Linked DNA regions of Homo sapiens: region 1 is linked to region 2. The links come from fine-mapping of genetic effects on gene expression. Tissue or cell type: whole blood. Region 2 holds a variant in brackets; the other region holds the start of a gene. All regions are shown on one strand. Distances are from middle to middle.

What was found. PIP is the estimated chance that this variant, and not a neighbour inherited with it, causes the effect.
Region 1: RAB2A starts here. The variant in region 2 is fine-mapped to the expression of RAB2A in whole blood (INTERVAL, PIP above 0.99).

Annotation. Positions count from the first base shown.
Region 1 is chr8:60,512,958-60,521,290 of GRCh38, reverse strand. RAB2A (RAB2A, member RAS oncogene family) reads right to left here and starts at 4,304. Exons shown (of 8, transcript NM_002865.3): 1 at 4,038-4,304. The coding sequence starts at 4,083. LOC124901949 (a long non-coding RNA gene) reads right to left here. Exons shown (of 3, transcript XR_007060922.1): 3 at 4,493-7,599. RefSeq lists enhancers at 2,871-3,060, 4,296-5,156 and a silencer at 3,851-4,720.
Region 2 is chr8:60,545,823-60,554,155 of GRCh38, reverse strand. All of the region lies in intron 1 of RAB2A (RAB2A, member RAS oncogene family), which reads right to left. Among named protein-coding and RNA genes, the nearest start is that of RAB2A, 33 kb to the right of the region's middle. The variant T/C (reference allele first, on the strand shown) is at 4,174.

The sequences.
Region 1 (8,333 bases), 33 kb after region 2:
CACTCTGGCGGTGCCTACTCATCATTCTAATTTCAGCTGAAACATCACCTAGTGCCTCCCCTCAAGGATCCATCCACTTAACTATTAAATAAATCTGACACTCAATGGTGTACCCTGGCATCTAAGACAAAGGCAAAGACCTTCCTAACTAAAAAGATAATTTAAAATGCAAGTGGGGCTGAGAGCTGTGGCTTGTGCTTGTAATCTGGCACTTTGGGAGGCTGAAGTGGGAGGATGGCTTAAGCCCAGGAGTTTGAGACCAGCCTGAGCAACACAGTGAGAGCCCATCTCTACAAAAATTTAAAAATTAGCCAGGCATGGTGGCATGTGCCTGTGTTCCCAGCTACTTGGAAGACTTAGGTGGGAGGATTGCTTAGGCCCAGGAGACTGAAGCTGTAGTGAGTGAGCCGTGATAGTGCCACTGCACTCCTGCCTGGGCAACAGAGATCATGTCTCAATAGATAGATAAATAATATAAGTAAAATAAAATAAAATGGAAGTGGTGGGTATATACATAAGAGTGAAAAATAAAAAATAAAATGTAAGTGGGACTGGGACTGAAGAGAAGGGAAACAGAATGAGGGAAGAGAGGAGGGGACCAGCATAAAATGCAACAGGGAGTGGTAGGATTTGTTAAACTCTCAAAAGAATGGATAAAAAGGAGTTGGCCAGGTGACAAAAATTTTTGACATAACTTTTTTTGATAGGGAAGAACAAGAAGGAGTGCTTCAGATATTAGCAGAAATAAGAACACAACCAAACCTGTGCCTTTGTTTACCTTGCTGAGCGTTGAGCAGCAGGGAGGGTTAGTGATAAGGTTAAAATGGTTGGCAGATGCTAGAATTTCAGAAGAAAAATTACTATAGATTCGTATTTTTTCTCTCCATGCTTGATAATTAACTGCTTATTAAAAACCACTTTCCACTTTACATCTAGATTTAAATGACACATTTTACTAAATGATTCAGAAACAAGACAGGAACAAGGAAAAAATTTAAAGCTACATTTTAACTGCATTTAGTCTTACAGTAAGAAAACAGCTCAATAGTATCATCATGATCATGTAAAAGTTTTTAAAACCTCTTCTATTAAAGAGGGAATTCTGAAAAGGAAAAATGTGCATTGTTCCTTTCCTTTGAGAAATCAAAGTACTTTCACATTTATCCTCATTTTATCCCACATACTGAGAGAAGGTTATAGGTTACGGAAACAGGGAAACAGAAAAATTAGGTGATTTCCTTCATTCTAAGATGCATGTTTTTGACCCTGACTTTTTAAAAAATCAAAGTGGATCTCACATTACTGATTTTAAAGTCATCTTTTCTAGGGGAGGGCCACACTGAGTGTATCTTACAACTATGGGTACACTCTGCATTAAAGAAATATGGTAAAGGATTTTGCCCAAATTAGTAAGCAAGAAGGTGGCAGAACTGGGCAACAACAACAACAACAACGACACCACTTCTGTTAAGTTATTAATATATACAAACAGGAATATAGTAGCCTGTTTGGCTCCTCTCTTATTAGTTAAATATACAGGGCCTACCTTCTACTACGCTCTTCCTGAAAGAAATACAGAGCCATACAAAACATCTTTTCTGACTTCAAGAAGTATATAATAGGTACCTACATAATAGAGGTGCCTATACAAGTATCTATACAACAGAAAAGTCTGGGATCAATATCAGAAGAATGACACAAAGTGAGAAACATAAATTCAGAAACGGAGTAGTCACTTTCAGCCAGGATACTGTGAAAATCTTCACACAATAAGAGCTTAATATATGTTGACTGTGAAGGCATTACGGAAAACTCAGATAAGACTTTGAAGGACTGATGGATCTTCCACAGGGAGAGATTGTGCCGGAAAGCACTCTAAGAATAGAGACTAGCAGTGCCCAGGAAAAAAACACCAAAATCAGTCACTGGGACTCAATGGCAGAAGCAAGGTGGGGAATAGCGGGAAAGAAGGCGAGAAATGTAGATAGGGGCTAAAATATAGAGTTCACTGAAGGTCAAACTAAAAATTGTGAGCAAACAGGAGTAGCCTTTTGACATTCATGCTTCAGGATGACTAAACTGACAGTAAACTACACTGGCTGAACTGGAGTAGGGAGAAGTACTGCTGCAGACTATAACAGTGTCAAGAATTCTGTTCCTGAACTAGGTCGTATCAGCAGCAATGACAAGAAAGAAGTGTCTTCCCTTTGAATTGCGTGGGGACTGCTTTTGGATAAGAGCAAATTCCAAGAGAACAGAGCATTAACTTGTTAGGATTTGTAGCCCCACTACTCCATGCACAATACTTTATTTATCCACAGTACAGCCTCAAATAAAAAACTGAAAAAAGGCAACCAGCAAAGTCTGATTTGAATTTTCACCACTAATGAGATAGCCAAATGCCACAGTCACAAGCTTCTATTTCTCAAACCCACTCATATTACAGTTAATGTGGCATTCCTCTCCAATCTTGTTTTTACAGCCTAAATGAAATTTTGCCAGAAGACTTTAGAATTCTCCTTCTTCCAAATACACCACAGCATTTTTCTTTTAAAGTTTACAAATCCAATTTCCACACACACACACACGCACGCACGCATCAGAAAACCTTGCTGAAAACTCATGTATCTAGCAGAAATTTTTTCTTTCAGGCAGCAATAAATATGCTTTTTTTTTTTTTTTTTTTTTTTTTTTGCAAACTCCACCTTCCGGGCTCAAGTGATCCTCCCGCCTCAGCCTCCCAAGTGGCTGGGATTACAGGCGCCTGCCACGACGCCCGGCTAACTTTTGTACTTTTAGTAGAGACGGGGTTTCACCACGTTGGCCAAGCAGGTCTCGAACTCCTGATCTCAGGTGATCCCCCACCTCGGCCTCCGAAAGTGCTGGGATTACAGGTGTGAGCCACCGCGTCCGGCCAACATGCTTCTTTAGTTACTTATAGAACCTGCCACATCATTAGTTCAACTACAAACTGCTGCTTACATGACCGAAGTTGTGCAAAGGGTCCAAAGTTGTGCAAGAGTAACCACTGAAATCAGACTCTGGTATATTAATAGTTGCAACATCTAAACAATCTTTATGTTTATTATTAGATTCAAAGTAATGCCAAATCACAGGTATTAAAAATATCTACGAAGAGTCTGTTTACTTTTCTGTGAAATATACTAGGACGTCATTTTAAGTGAGAATAACTGAATTTCTTTCAGCTCATGGACATGAGCTCACCTGAAAATTAGCAGTTGTGACACCGGACTTGACATATCTAAAACATCAGCGTCCTCAACATACACATACCTAAGTACACACCCAGAGCACTGAACGACTTTACATTACTATATAACCCCAGTTCACACGTGGCAAAAGTCCACAGAACTCGTTCATGCTTTCCTAACCCCGAAAGGGATTCTCCAGCCGTCAAGTAATGAGATGTGACTTATTCTGACGTGAGAGTTGAAGGTGTTAAAAAAGCATATTTTATATATATGTATATATATAAAATACATATTTTAAAGGTTTCCTTTTCTCTTTCTCGGCTGCCTGTCCCACGCCAAAAAGCGCCTTGCCCAGGCCTTGATAGATGCGTGCTGGTGGAGGAAGGTTGGACTGGTCAGGAACCAAGACCCGGGCCCCAACACCTTCTGCTCCCCTAGGTTTCCCTCCTTCTTTTTCCTGGGGCCGCGAAGAGACCTAACGCAAGGGGCCCTGGGGGTGGGGTGCAGTCATGTGAGTCGGGCCCCGGCGGCCCTGCGCTAGGCCTCCCCTCCTGTCACACACTTCCTGAATCGGGCGTCGCAAACGGCTGCCACGGCCCTCAGCTGCAAGACTGGCCGGGTCGGGGGCCGCAGACCGGGCCTGGCCAGGCCGCGGCCGCTCGCAGTGCCCACGTCACCAGCTCCAGCACTGCGGAAATGGAGCGGCGCGGCCAGGAGGGAGGCGCCGGGTGGAGTCCGCGTCCCCGCCACCGCCAGACGCCGTTTGCCCCTCAGCCCGGGTCCGGAGGCCGCCGACACCCGCCCGGCCGCGCCCGGGGCCCTCACCTGTGTCGCCGATTATGATGTACTTGAAGAGATAGGCGTACGCCATGGCCGCGGCCGCTCAGTGCCAGGGCACACGGCTCCTCCTCCCGCTGCTGCTCCTCCTCCGCGCCCCAACCCCGGTGCCGCTCAGCCTCGAAACGCCAGGCGCCGCCCGCCGCCGCCGCTGCTGCTGTCAGCCGCCGGGAGTGAGGGGCTGTGAGGAAGCCGGACGAACTGACACCCGCAGAGCCGAGGGAGACAGCGCCCGACCGAGCCCAGCCGAACAATAACAGCCGCCGCGGCGCCTCCGCCCCGCCTCCGCGCCGACCCGGAAGTTCTGCGGCCGCCGGCGCCGCCGGAGGAAAGGGGAGGAGCCCCGCACGCTGGCCCAGCCCTGCACGCTGGCCGCGCCCCGCCAGCCGGAGCCCCGCCCCGCCCCGCCCCGCGCCTGCCTTGCCCGGTCCGCCCTGTCTTCCAGCAGGGCGGGGCCCGGCTCCGGTTGTTCCGCCACGTTTGAGCGGGCGAGCCCGGCGGCCGGGAGACGCCAGGGAACGGGGCTGGTGGGGGTACAAAGGCTCGGTTCCGTCGCCTTCAGCCCTGCGGTGGGGGCACGGGGCAAGTGAGGGGACGGCAGAGGCGGCGTTCGGTGTGAGGCTGCGCCCTGGGCTCCTGAAAATGTGTGTGAAAATGTGGGAGGCACACGGCGAGGGGGTGGGGGTGGCCTGGTATTTCTGTGTTTGGCATCGGGGCTTGAAGGTGAAAATGGCAGTATTTATAAATTGGAAACCGTAAATCTGGGACTGCAAAGTAAATCATGGTATGCACGCACAGTGGAGTACTACGTTGCTCTCACCTGAGGTCAGGAGTTCGAGACCAGCCTGGCCAACATGGCGAAACCGCGTCTCTACTAAAAATACATTAGCCGGGCGTGGTGGTGCTCGCCTGTAATCCCAGCTACTCGGAGTCTAAGGCAGGAGAATCACTTGAACCTGGGAGGTGGAGGTTGTAGTGAGCCGAGATTGAACCACGGCACTCCAGACTGGGCGACAGAGCGGGACTCCGTCTCAAAATAATAATAGTAAATAAAAAATAAATAAAGTCTCTGAACCTGTCCTGGTTCTGAGGGCTGCTCTAAAAAAAAAAAAAAAAAAAAAGCCTGACTTAGGTTAAGCAAAACCGAGATGATCTGTTTATGTGTGTGTATATAACATGCACCATATGTAATATATGAATTGTATATAATTTTTATGTGTAACAAATAGTGGGAAAACATTTACATACCCATATATGCATAATCAATCTGAAAGGAAAGCTAACTGGTATTAAGAGAAAGGAGGGAATGGGATTGGGGGGAAAATGTACTTTTCCCTGAATTTTTTTGTGCAGTTTGACATTTTTTGCAGTGTTCATGAGTTACCTATTAGGAAATACTGTTAAAGGAAAAAACAAAATGACTGTGCATTCAAAGAATAGTTATTGAATACTATGTTTCATGTACCGCCAGGCACAGCAACTGGAGGCCCTGTATGTTCTATGTTCTGTTTTTCTACTTTGCTTTTTCAGTCATCCAGCCCAAAATGTCACCACTCTGTTCAAAAAGACCACAGGTTATGGAAGAGGAGGTGGAGAATAGGGTGTCAGGAAAGGTTACTTAGAGATTATGATTTCTGAGCCAGGAATATGAATTATGTATAGAGTTTGTCGAAAGAACAACAGTTTGGGGAGGGGAACCAAAGTTTATGGACAAGGAACAGAATGTGCAAAATTCCTGGATCTGTTCAGGGAATTTGAAGTTGCATAAGGAAGCTAATTGACTAACTCATATCCTCATAACCCATAACCTCATATTGAAGGAGAATCATTGCTGGGGAAAAGCGATTGGGATTTAGTGGCCCTCGTTCCTGTTGCCTAATACTCTTCTCTTTGGGGCCTCTCATTATGTAATTAGTACTGACACCATCATGCTGGGTTGCTAACATGCTTTGGATGGCCTTGCCAAATATGAACTCACAAGGTTTTTCTGGAATATTTGGAGGGGATTTTACTAAAGGGTCAGAGATGGCACGGAAGAATTTGACATGAAAATTTGACATGAAAAGCTACCTGGAATCGCAAAATTTGGTTCATTCACCTTTAGTTTGAGGAAGGGGAGGTCCCTGCCCAAGGCCTCCAGTTTTCAGATGTCATTTTGTCCCTCCCACTTGAGTGCCTTCACCCAAGTCTTCCTTGGTGATGGAGAAACTCAAGTCTTCACTCTCACAAGATAGAGGGATGTGGCCTTCCTTCACCAGCACAACTCTATTAGGATGTTATACAAATGCCTGGCATCCTAGGAGTCAGGAGTATTCCTACACTGTTAGAGGAGGAGAGTACCTGGAGAGGTCTCTTGTGCCAGGTTATGTAGGGCCTTGTATGTTATGTCACCATGCATTTAGAACTTTACTTAGTAGACAAAGGAAATTGTGACAGGAAATGGTCAGAACTGGGTATGTAACAAAAATCATAGAAATGGATATAAAGCTATAGAGGCAATGTGTTATAAGGAAAATAGGATACCTGGCTTCTGGTCTTGGCTCTACCTGTAACTGATCGGATGAATGTGAGGAATCGTTTGGCCTCTTAAAGCTTCAGAGCACAGGTTGCGATGGCTTGTGCCTGCGGTCCCAGCTACTTGGGAGGCTGAAGAGGGAGGATAGCTTGAGCCAAGCAGTTTGAGGCAGCAGTGAGCTAGGATGGTGCGACTGCACTCCAGCTTGGGCTATAGATTGAGACCTTGTGTCTTAATAAATAAAATAATTATTAAAATAAAAATAATTTAAAAAATTATGAGTGGTTCAGTGCACTTGTCTATTAAGTAAAGGAGTTAAGTGTTTCTTAAAAGGGCTATTCCAAGCATGACGTCTTTTAATTTTATGCTTAGCCAGCCTCCAAATCTAAAGCCATCTGTAAAGAAGGTAGTAATCCTCTCGTGAAAATGCAGGGGCCATAGATGTCAAATGCATATTGTTCTGATTGATTGATTGATTGATTGAGAGGAGGTCTTGCTCTGTCATCTAGGCTGGAGTACAGTGACCCAGTCATGGCTTACTGCTGTCTTGACTTCCTGGGCTCAGGTGATTGTCCTGCCTCAGCCTCCTGAGTAGCTGGGATCACAGGCACATGCCACCACGCCTATATCATTTATTATTATTATTATTATTTGGAGAGATGGAGACTCCCTCTGTTACTCAGGCTGGTCTTGAACTACTGGCCTCAAGCAATTCTCCCACCTTGAAGAACAGGATTTTCAAGTTCTTCTCTGGGCTTCAGTTTCCTTATTTGGAATATGTGGATAATAACTGCTTAACAAAGTCCATTTAGGATCAAATGAGATAATGTATGTGAAAATACTGTGTAAATTATGAAAAATGTATACCTAATACATAAAACTCTTTGCACTGCATAATTTTTGGAAATTACTTGAGGGGCTGAGTGCGGTGGCTCATGCATGTAATTCCAACACTTTGGGAGGCAAAGTCTGGAGGATCCCTTGAGCCTTGGAGTTCAAGAAGATCAGCATGGGTTACATGGTGAGATCCTGTCTCTACAGAAAATTAAAAAGAAAAAAAAGAAATTAACTTGAGGAACTAAAGGCCTAATCACTATATAAATTCATGGTTTAAAATTAAGTTTGTTCCTGGCTCTATTTTATGTCTCTACCTTTTTTCCTATGTATGATTCATAATATTTTGTTATATTTTCTATAAACCTATAATCTCTTAAATCTTCGAAAAAATACAGGGTATAAATAAAAATCACATAAACCTCATTTAAAACATTTTCTTTAGCCCATAAAAATCCAAACATATTTTTCAAGAAAAGTCCCCCAGACAAAATAACAGAAATAAACCTCTCTTCCATTAAATATAGTATACTTCCTGGAATTTTCCATTCAGTTTGATTTTCGGCTATTTTCAGTCTCTTAGGATGTGTTGTGGTAACTCTGTCTCTCAGCCTTACATCATATATGGTCTGAAGGTCATAACTGTGAAATTTCAAGATTGTAGCACTACATTCTTCAGTGTCTCCTAATCAAGTTCTCCATGACATTTTTGAGTACAATACTATATTAGAAGTTTGCATTTGCTTCTCCCAACTAAACTTTCATGTTTATATTTTCTTTGGTTTTAATTACTCTCAGGCTTTGGGAAGAGGGATAGGGTGGAGTGGAATGGGAGAAGGTGGTTGGGAATACTGTAATCTTGAGGTTTTTGCCTTGGTTTCCATGGTTCCTTAGCCACTCCTTCTGAAATGGTATGCAAAACTGATAATGATGTA
Region 2 (8,333 bases):
GCAGATACAATTAACTCACTCTCATGTCACACTGACTAAAATATAAAAATTCAAGCTCTTCAAAACAGTACACAAGGTTCTTTTTGAGCTGAAAATTATTACTCTAAGAGATTAATACTATGACAATACAGTGTAAAGACTCTATAGTTAGCAACAACAAACCATTGTCCCCTGAAATGATATCATATCTTTTTGCTGGTACCTTTTATAAAGGAACTTTTCACTCCCTGGCAAATTTAAATTCATGCTTTAAGACAACTCAAAGCTTCATATACCCTCTTTGGTAGAACATTCCTGTTCCAAAGATTCTACCAATCCCCAAGCAAAACTAATGGTTTAGCCCCCACAATCATATACGCCAATGAATGAATCAATTTCAGCCTTGGGCTCCCATAATACTTTATATATGCCTCAAAACCCTGATTAGAATCCCAGCTCTGTCACTTATTAGCTGTAACACAGGGTACTTGACCTTTCTGAGCCTTAGAATCCTTATCTATAAAATGGAGGAAATCTCTACACCTCAATGAACTGTTATAAGAAGCAAATTAAATATATAGATACAAAAGGGACCCTGTACAGTACTGGTTACCTGAGTGTGTCCAGTTTATAACAATTATTTGAGCTATACACTTAGTATATATGCATTTTTCTGTGTGCATAATATACTTCAATAAAAATGAAAACAAAATGACGGTCTTTTTGATGCATCAGTTTGGCTAGGCCCTACCCTAGTTATGCAATCAAACACTAATCTAGGCGTTGCTGTGAAGGCATCATACAAGTAATAAAAATCCATAATCAGCTGACTTTAAGTGCGACAGGGGCTTCCTAGAGAGAAGAAATAATTCCACCTGTGGACAGCAACTTTAGCCATACCTGTGGGTTACAGCCTGTCCTGAGGATTTCAGACTTGCTTGTCCAGCCCCCAAAATCACATAAACCAAATAAACAATCAATTTCAATTTCAACTCCCATCTCTATCTATCTAATCACATGCACACATATATCCTGCTGGTTCTGCTTCTCCAGTTGGATGCTGACTTTTTTCCCTTTTTCTTTTTTCAACGCCTATCTTATTATCCCAGATACTGAATCTCACAAACAACCATCACCTCTCAAAAAGCACAGTGTGTAGAACAGGAAGGCCCTCAAATAAAGCTATTATTTTTATTAATTGTATCATGCTTTATAGGCTCTCCCATAACAGAACGTGACCCCCAGCTCTATTAGGACAGAAATCACTTGCAAGAGTGTGTCCCTAGCACACAGCAGGTACAAAGCAAGCCTCTGTCTGTCCTCATACCCTTCTTACTAGAAAACTTGTCTAAATTGTTGACTGATAAGAGAGAGAAAATTTGCATATACAGCTAATTCTGAATTTTCCTCACTACCTTTAGAAGATGGGAGGGGTTTAACCAACTGTGTAACTTTCCATATATTATTTCATCTTTTTGGACATAATTTTACTATATGTACAGAGAATCAGAGAATTGAGCCAGACAATCATCAAGTTTCTTTCTAACTCTACTAATTGGCCTTGATGATTTATTATTTAGAGCTTTAAAATTTTAATAACGTTTTCTTTTCATGGATAAATTTAACATCTGAGTATCTGTTTAGAAATGTAAAACAATGAATCCATCATATCACAAAGTATAGTAATACGAAGAAAATATAGAGAATTTTTTTCCCTATAACTTATAAAAGTGATAGGTCACTGAGCATGGTGGCTCACACCTGTAATCCCAGCACTTTAGGAGGCTGAGGCAGGAGGATCACTTGAGGCCAGGAGTTCTAGACCAGCCTGGGTAACATAGTGAGACCCCATAGGTATAAAAAAATTTAAAAATTAGGCCGGGCGTGGTGGCTCATACCTGTAATCCCAGCACTTTGAGAGGCCGAGGCGGGTGGATCACGAGGTCAGGAGTTCAAGACCAGCCTGGCCAACATGGTGAAACCCTATCTCTACTAAAAATACAGAAAGTAGCTGGATGTGGTGGCAGGCACCTGTAATCCCAGTTACTAGGAGGCTGAGGCAGGAGAATCGCTTGAACCCAGTAGGCGGAGGTTGCAGTGAGCCGAAATTGCGCCACTGCGTGCCAGCCTGGGCAACAAAAGCGAAACTCCATCTTAAAAAAAAAAAAAAAAAAACTCCCAGCTACTCAAGAGGCTGAGGCATGAGAATTGCTTAAACCCGAGAAGTGGAAGCTGCAGTGAGCCGAGATCGTGCCACTGAACTCCAGTCTGGGCGACACAGCAAGGCTCTGTCTCCAAAAAAAAAAAAAAAAAAAAAAAATCAAGGCATGGTAGCACATCTTGTAGTCCTAGCTACTCAAGAGGCTAAGGACAGAGGATTGCTTGAACCTAGGAGTTTGAGGTTGCAGTGAGCTATGACTGAGCCATTGTATTCGAGCCTGAGTGACAAGCAAGACCCTGTCTCTAAAATAAAATAAAAATAGTAAAAATAAAAGATCAAAATCTGAAATACAGTTTCTACTGAATGTCACTTTTGCACCACTGTAAAGTTGAAAAATTGCTAAGTCAAACCATCAAAAGACAGAGACCATCTGTAGTTATCTTTTTAGTGCCTCAGTTTCCTAACCTGTAAGAAGTAGGTTAATAACACCTATCTAATAGGATACTTGAGAACATTAAATAAGTTAATCCACTGTAAGTCTTAAAACAGTGTCTGGCACATAGTAAAGTTTCAAAAAAGAATTCAACAAATGTTTGTTGCTACCATCAATAGTAAAACACTATTACTATGTCTGTTTACACTTTAAGCTCCCTAAAAGCATGAACCATGATCCATTCATTTTCAGCATTAGCCACATGTATCTCCAGTGCAAAGACAAAGGCTCACAAACTTGTGGAATGGGATGAAAGACTATAAACTTGTTTTTTCCCAACATGTGTGCACAAATGTGTACATGTATACAGAAGAGGGAGAGAAATAGAATCAGTTGCAGGGTGTTAAATGCTATGGTAAAAAGAAAAAGCAGAGCAGGGCAAGGATGTAGGACCTGAAACGCTGGGGTGGAGGGAAGGAGGAAGATGTGTTATTTAACCAGGTAGTCCCTCATGGAGAAGGTGAGATTTAAATGAAGGTTTAAAGGAGGTGAGGAAATAGGCCAGTGGATCACTGAGAGAAGAGTATTATTCCACACCAAGGAAACAGTTAAGAAGAAAAGTTCTAAGGTGGCACATTTTAGAGAAACTGCAATGAGGCCAATGTGGCTAAAGCACAGGAGGCAGGGAGAGTCATGCCCCTAGGAACTAGGATATAGGAATGACAGGGGCCTAATCACACAGAACCTAAAGAACTCTGTAAGTTTATTGAGATAAAATAGGGGATTCACTGGAGAGTTTTCAGCAGAGAAGTAATATAATTTTACTTAAATTCCAAAAGGCCTACTGGCTGCTACAATGAGAACTTACAAGTAGAAGCAGATGAGAGTAGAAGCAAAGAAGGCAGGTGTGGTGGCTCATGCCTTCCCTAGCACTTTGGGAGGCCAAGGTAGGTGGACTACTTGAGCCCAGGAGTTCAAGACCAGCCTGGACTACATGGTGAAACCCTGTCTCTACAAAAAAAATACAAAAAACTTAGCCAGGCATGGTGGTGCACACCTTAGTCCCAGTTACATGGGGGCTGAGGTGGGAGGATCGCTTGAACCTGGGAGGTGGAGGTTGCAGCGAGCCGAGATCACACCACTGCACTTCAGCCTGGATGATGGAGTGAGACCCTGCCTCAAAAAAAAAAAAGACAAAAAAAACCGTGAACCAGTAAGGAGCTTTCTCAATAAGGCTAGAAATGGTGACTTGGACCAGGGTGGTTGCATTGGGGGTAGTTCAAATTGAATTTGTGAGGCAGAGCCAAGAGAATGTGTTGACAGTGTGAATTTTTTGAGAAAGAGAAGTGTGTTAAGAATGATCCAATGTTTTGCCTGATCAAACAGAAAGTTCAGTGAGATGGGAGATGTAGGTAGAGCAGATTGAGAGTGGACAGATCATCAGTTCCAGTTTGGTTATTTTGAGTTGAGATGTCTATTAGTCACCCAAGAGACAAAGCTGAGTAGACAAGTGAATATGTGAGTACAGATTTCAAGAAAGACATTCAGGATGAAGATAAGCCACATGTAAAGAGGAATCAGCAAAAAAAAGACTGAGACA[T/C]AGCCCATGTTTGTTATTTAATCACAGAATTAAACAGAATGAGAACAAACAAAAATGGCTTTTGAGTAAAGGCTGGCAAATTCCAAAACTTTTTTTTTTTTTCAAAAGGAGGACGAATAGAAAGCCTGGATTTAAATCTTTACCAAAAAACAACTTCTAGAAAGGAATCCCCTATAAACAGTTATTTTTGTTATTGTTGCTACTTTTCCAACAGAAATGGAAAATTAAAGAAAAAGCAACTATCTACTCTTTTAAAAAAATTTATGCTGGGATCTCTGATAAAAACCCAATTTGAAATGGGGGGAAAAAACTATCTCCTGCCAATGGCTTTCATTCTGCACCAAGAACAAGGCCTGTGCACATCCTCCCCCTTTCTCTCCACGTAGACAGACACTCCACATTACAGATGCCGTCCTTTGCCATTCCATGTGAAGTAGCTCCAATCCCCAATCATTTTCTATCCATTAGTAGTTTTCAATCCACACCAAAAAAAAAAAAAAAAAGGTTGGTGGAGACGGGGTTTCGCTGTGTTGGCCGGGCTGGTCTCCAGCTCCTAACCGCGAGTGATCCGCCAGCCTCGGCCTCCCGAGGTGCTGGGATTGCAGACGGAGTCTCGTTCACTCAGTGCTCAATGGTGCCCAGGCTGGAGTGCAGTGGCGTGATCTCGGCTCGCTACAACCTCCACCTCCCAGCAGCCTGCCTTGGCCTCCCAAAGTGCCAAGATTGCAGCCTCTGCCCGGCCGCCACCCCGTCTGGGAAGTGAGGAGCGTCTCCGCCTGGCCGCCCATCGTCTGGGATGTGAGGAGCCCCTCTGCCTGGCTGCCCAGTCTGGAAAGTGAGGAGCGTCTCTGCCCGGCCGCCATCCCATCTAGGAAGTGAGGAGCGCCTCTTCCCGGCCGCCATCACATCTGGGAAGTGAGGAGCGTCTCTGCCCGGCCGCCCATCGTCTGAGATGTGGGGAGCACCTCTGCCCTGCCGCCCCGTCCGGGATGTGAGGAGCGTCTCTGCCCTGCCGCCCCGTCTGAGAAGTGAGGAGACCCTCTGCCTGGCAACTGCCCTGTCTGAGAAGTGAGGAGCCCCTCTGCCCGGCAGCCACCCTGTCTGAGAAGTGAGGAGCGTCTCTGCCCGGCAGCCACCTCGTCCGGGAGGGAGGTGGGGGGGTCAGCCCCCCGCCCGGCCAGCCGCCCCGTCTGGGAGGGAGGTGGGGGGATCAGCCCCCCGCCCGGCCAGCCGCCCCATCCGGCAGGTGAGGGGTGCCTCTGCCCGGCTGCCCCTACTGGGAAGTGAGGAGCCCCTCTGCCCGGCCAGCCACTCCGTCCGGGAGGGAGGTGGGGGGGTCAGCCCCCCGCTCGGCCAGCCGCCCCATCCGGGAAGTGAGGGGCGCCTCTGCCTGGCCGCCCCTGCTGGGAAGTGAGGATCCCCTCTGCCCGGCCAGCCGCCCCGTCCGGGAGGGAGGTGGGGGGGTCAGCCCCCCGCCCGGCCAGCCGCCCCGTCCGGGAAGTGAGGGGCGCCTCTGCCCGGCCGCCCCTACTGGGAAGTGAGGAGCCACTCTGCCCGGCCAGCCGCCCCGTCCGGGAGGGAGGTGGGGGGATCAGCCCCCCGCCCGGCCAGCCGCCCCATCCGGGAAGTGAGGGGCGCCTCTGCCCGGCCGCCCCTGCTGGGAAGTGAGGAGCCACTCTGCCCGGCCAGCCGCCCCGTCCGGGAGGGAGGTGGGGGGGTCAGCCCCCCGCCCGGCCAGCCGCCCCGTCCGGGAAGTGAGGGGCGCCTCTGCCCGGCCGCCCCTACTGGGAAGTGAGGAGCCACTCTGCCTGGCCAGCCGCCCCGTCCGGGAGGGAGGTGGGGGGATCAGCCCCCCGCCCGGCCAGCCGCCCCATCCGGGAAGTGAGGGGCGCCTCTGCCCGGCCGCCCCTGCTGGGAAGTGAGGAGCCACTCTGCCCGGCCAGCCGCCCCGTCCGGGAGGGAGGTGGGGGGGTCAGCCCCCCGCCCGGCCAGCCGCCCCGTCCGGGAAGTGAGGGGCGCCTCTGCCCGGCCGCCCCTACTGGGAAGTGAGGAGCCACTCTGCCCGGCCAGCCGCCCCGTCCGGGAGGGAGGTAGGGGGGTCAGCCCCCCGCCCGGCCAGCCGCCCCGTCCAGGAGGGAGGTGGGGGGGTCAGCCCCCCGCCCGGCCAGCCGCCCCATCCGGGAAGTGAGGGGCGCCTCTGCCCGGCCGCCCCTGCTGGGAAGTGAGGAGCCACTCTGCCTGGCCAGCCGCCCCGTCCGGGAGGGAGGTGGGGGGGTCAGCCCCCCCGCCCGGCCAGCCGCCCCGTCCGGGAGGGAGGTGGGGGGGTCAGCCCCCCGCCTGGCCAGCCGCCCCGTCCGGGAGGTGAGGGGCGCCTCTGCCCGGCCGCCCCTACTGGGAAGTGAGGAGCCCCTCTGCCCAGCCAGCCGCCCCATCCAGGAGGGAGGTGGGGGGAGTCAGCCCCCCGTCCGGCCAGCTGCCCTGTCCGGGAGGTGAGGGGCGCCTCTGCCCGGCCGCGCCTACTGGGAAGTGAGGAGCCCCTCTGCCCGGCCACCACCCCGTCTGGGAGGTATAGCCAACAGCTCATTGAGAACGGGCCATGATGACAATGGCGGTTTTGTGGAATAGAAAGGGGGGAAAGGTGGGGAAAAGATTGAGAAATCGGATGGTTGCCATGTCTGTGTAGAAAGAGGTAGACAGGGGAGACTTTTCCTTTTGTTCTGTACTAAGAAAAATTCTTCTGCCTTGGGATCCTGTTGATCGGTGACCTTACCCCCAACCCTGTGTTCTCTGAAACATGTGCTGTATCCACTCAGGGTTGAATGGATTAAGGGCGGTGCAAGATGTGCTTTGTTAAACAGATGCTTGAAGGCAGCATGCTCCTTAAGAGTCATCACCACTCCCTAATCTCAAGTACCCAGGGACACAAACACTGCGGAAGGCCGCAGGGTCCTCTGCCTAGGAAAACCAGAGACCTTTGTTCACTTGTTTATCTGCTGACCTTCCCTCCACTATTGTCCTGTGACCCTGCCAAATCCCCCTCTGCGAGAAACACCCAAGAATGATCAATAAAAAAAAAAAAAAAAAAAAAAAAGACCCAAAAAACAAAAACAAAAAGCAACCCAAACTGATGCTCAGGCCTCACACCTCCAGAGATGCTGATTGAACTGTCAGCATTGTGTAGTGGTTAAAAGCACTACCTGGGTGATTTTGGAAAAACTACTTGGCCTTTGCACGCAATCATTTTCAAAATGAGGATAAGAACAATACATACTTCACAACAAGAGTTGTGAGAATTAAACCAGTTAACCTATATAAAGCACTGAAAACATGTAGGAAGCACTATGTAAAAACTTAACAGTATTATTATTTAATTAAACAAACAAAGACAAAAATCCAACATGGATCACTTCTTCACTTGAAGTTTCCTCTAGATGTCCATGTAGTTTATCCTTTCTTTAATGCTAGAGAAGTACTATATTCCTTTACCAACCAAAACTAGATCTCAGCCCTCTCTCCCTGTTTGGAGATCTAGCAACTCGTTTTTCTTGCATCTTTATTACCTGCTTCTCCATGGACATCTTTTGACACATGCATTCAAGTCTCCCATCCTCGAACACACTCAAGAGAAGGTTGGTCAAGTCTTGCACCTCAAATTTTCTCAGCTATCGCAAGTAGGAAATATCACTAACTAGAATCTTAAACCTGATAGGTTTGAGAAGGCTTAAGAAAAAAGAAAAAGTCCAACACAAAGAATTACCCTGAGACTTTGGAGAGTTATTTACTTGTTTTCCTAAACAAACAGAAAGCCATGCACACCCTCCACCTCTTCTAGTATTTCTCTGGATGTGATCTTTCCCTTAATGGACTTCAGAATATGTTATCTCTGAAATGACAATTACTATGTACTAACTTTTATCTTACACTACAGTTATTTAAATGCCTGTTTTTACAACATTTATAAACAAAGTTCTTTCAGGGCAAGATCTGTATTCCTATTCATCTTTTCATCCTCCAAAGCACCTAGAATGATCTGTTGAGCTAGTATTCATGAAATATTTAATGAAAAATGAATAATTTAATAATTTAATGAATAATGAATATTTGTTTAATGAATAATGAATTTGTTTAATGAATATTTGTTTAATGATGTGCAAAACATT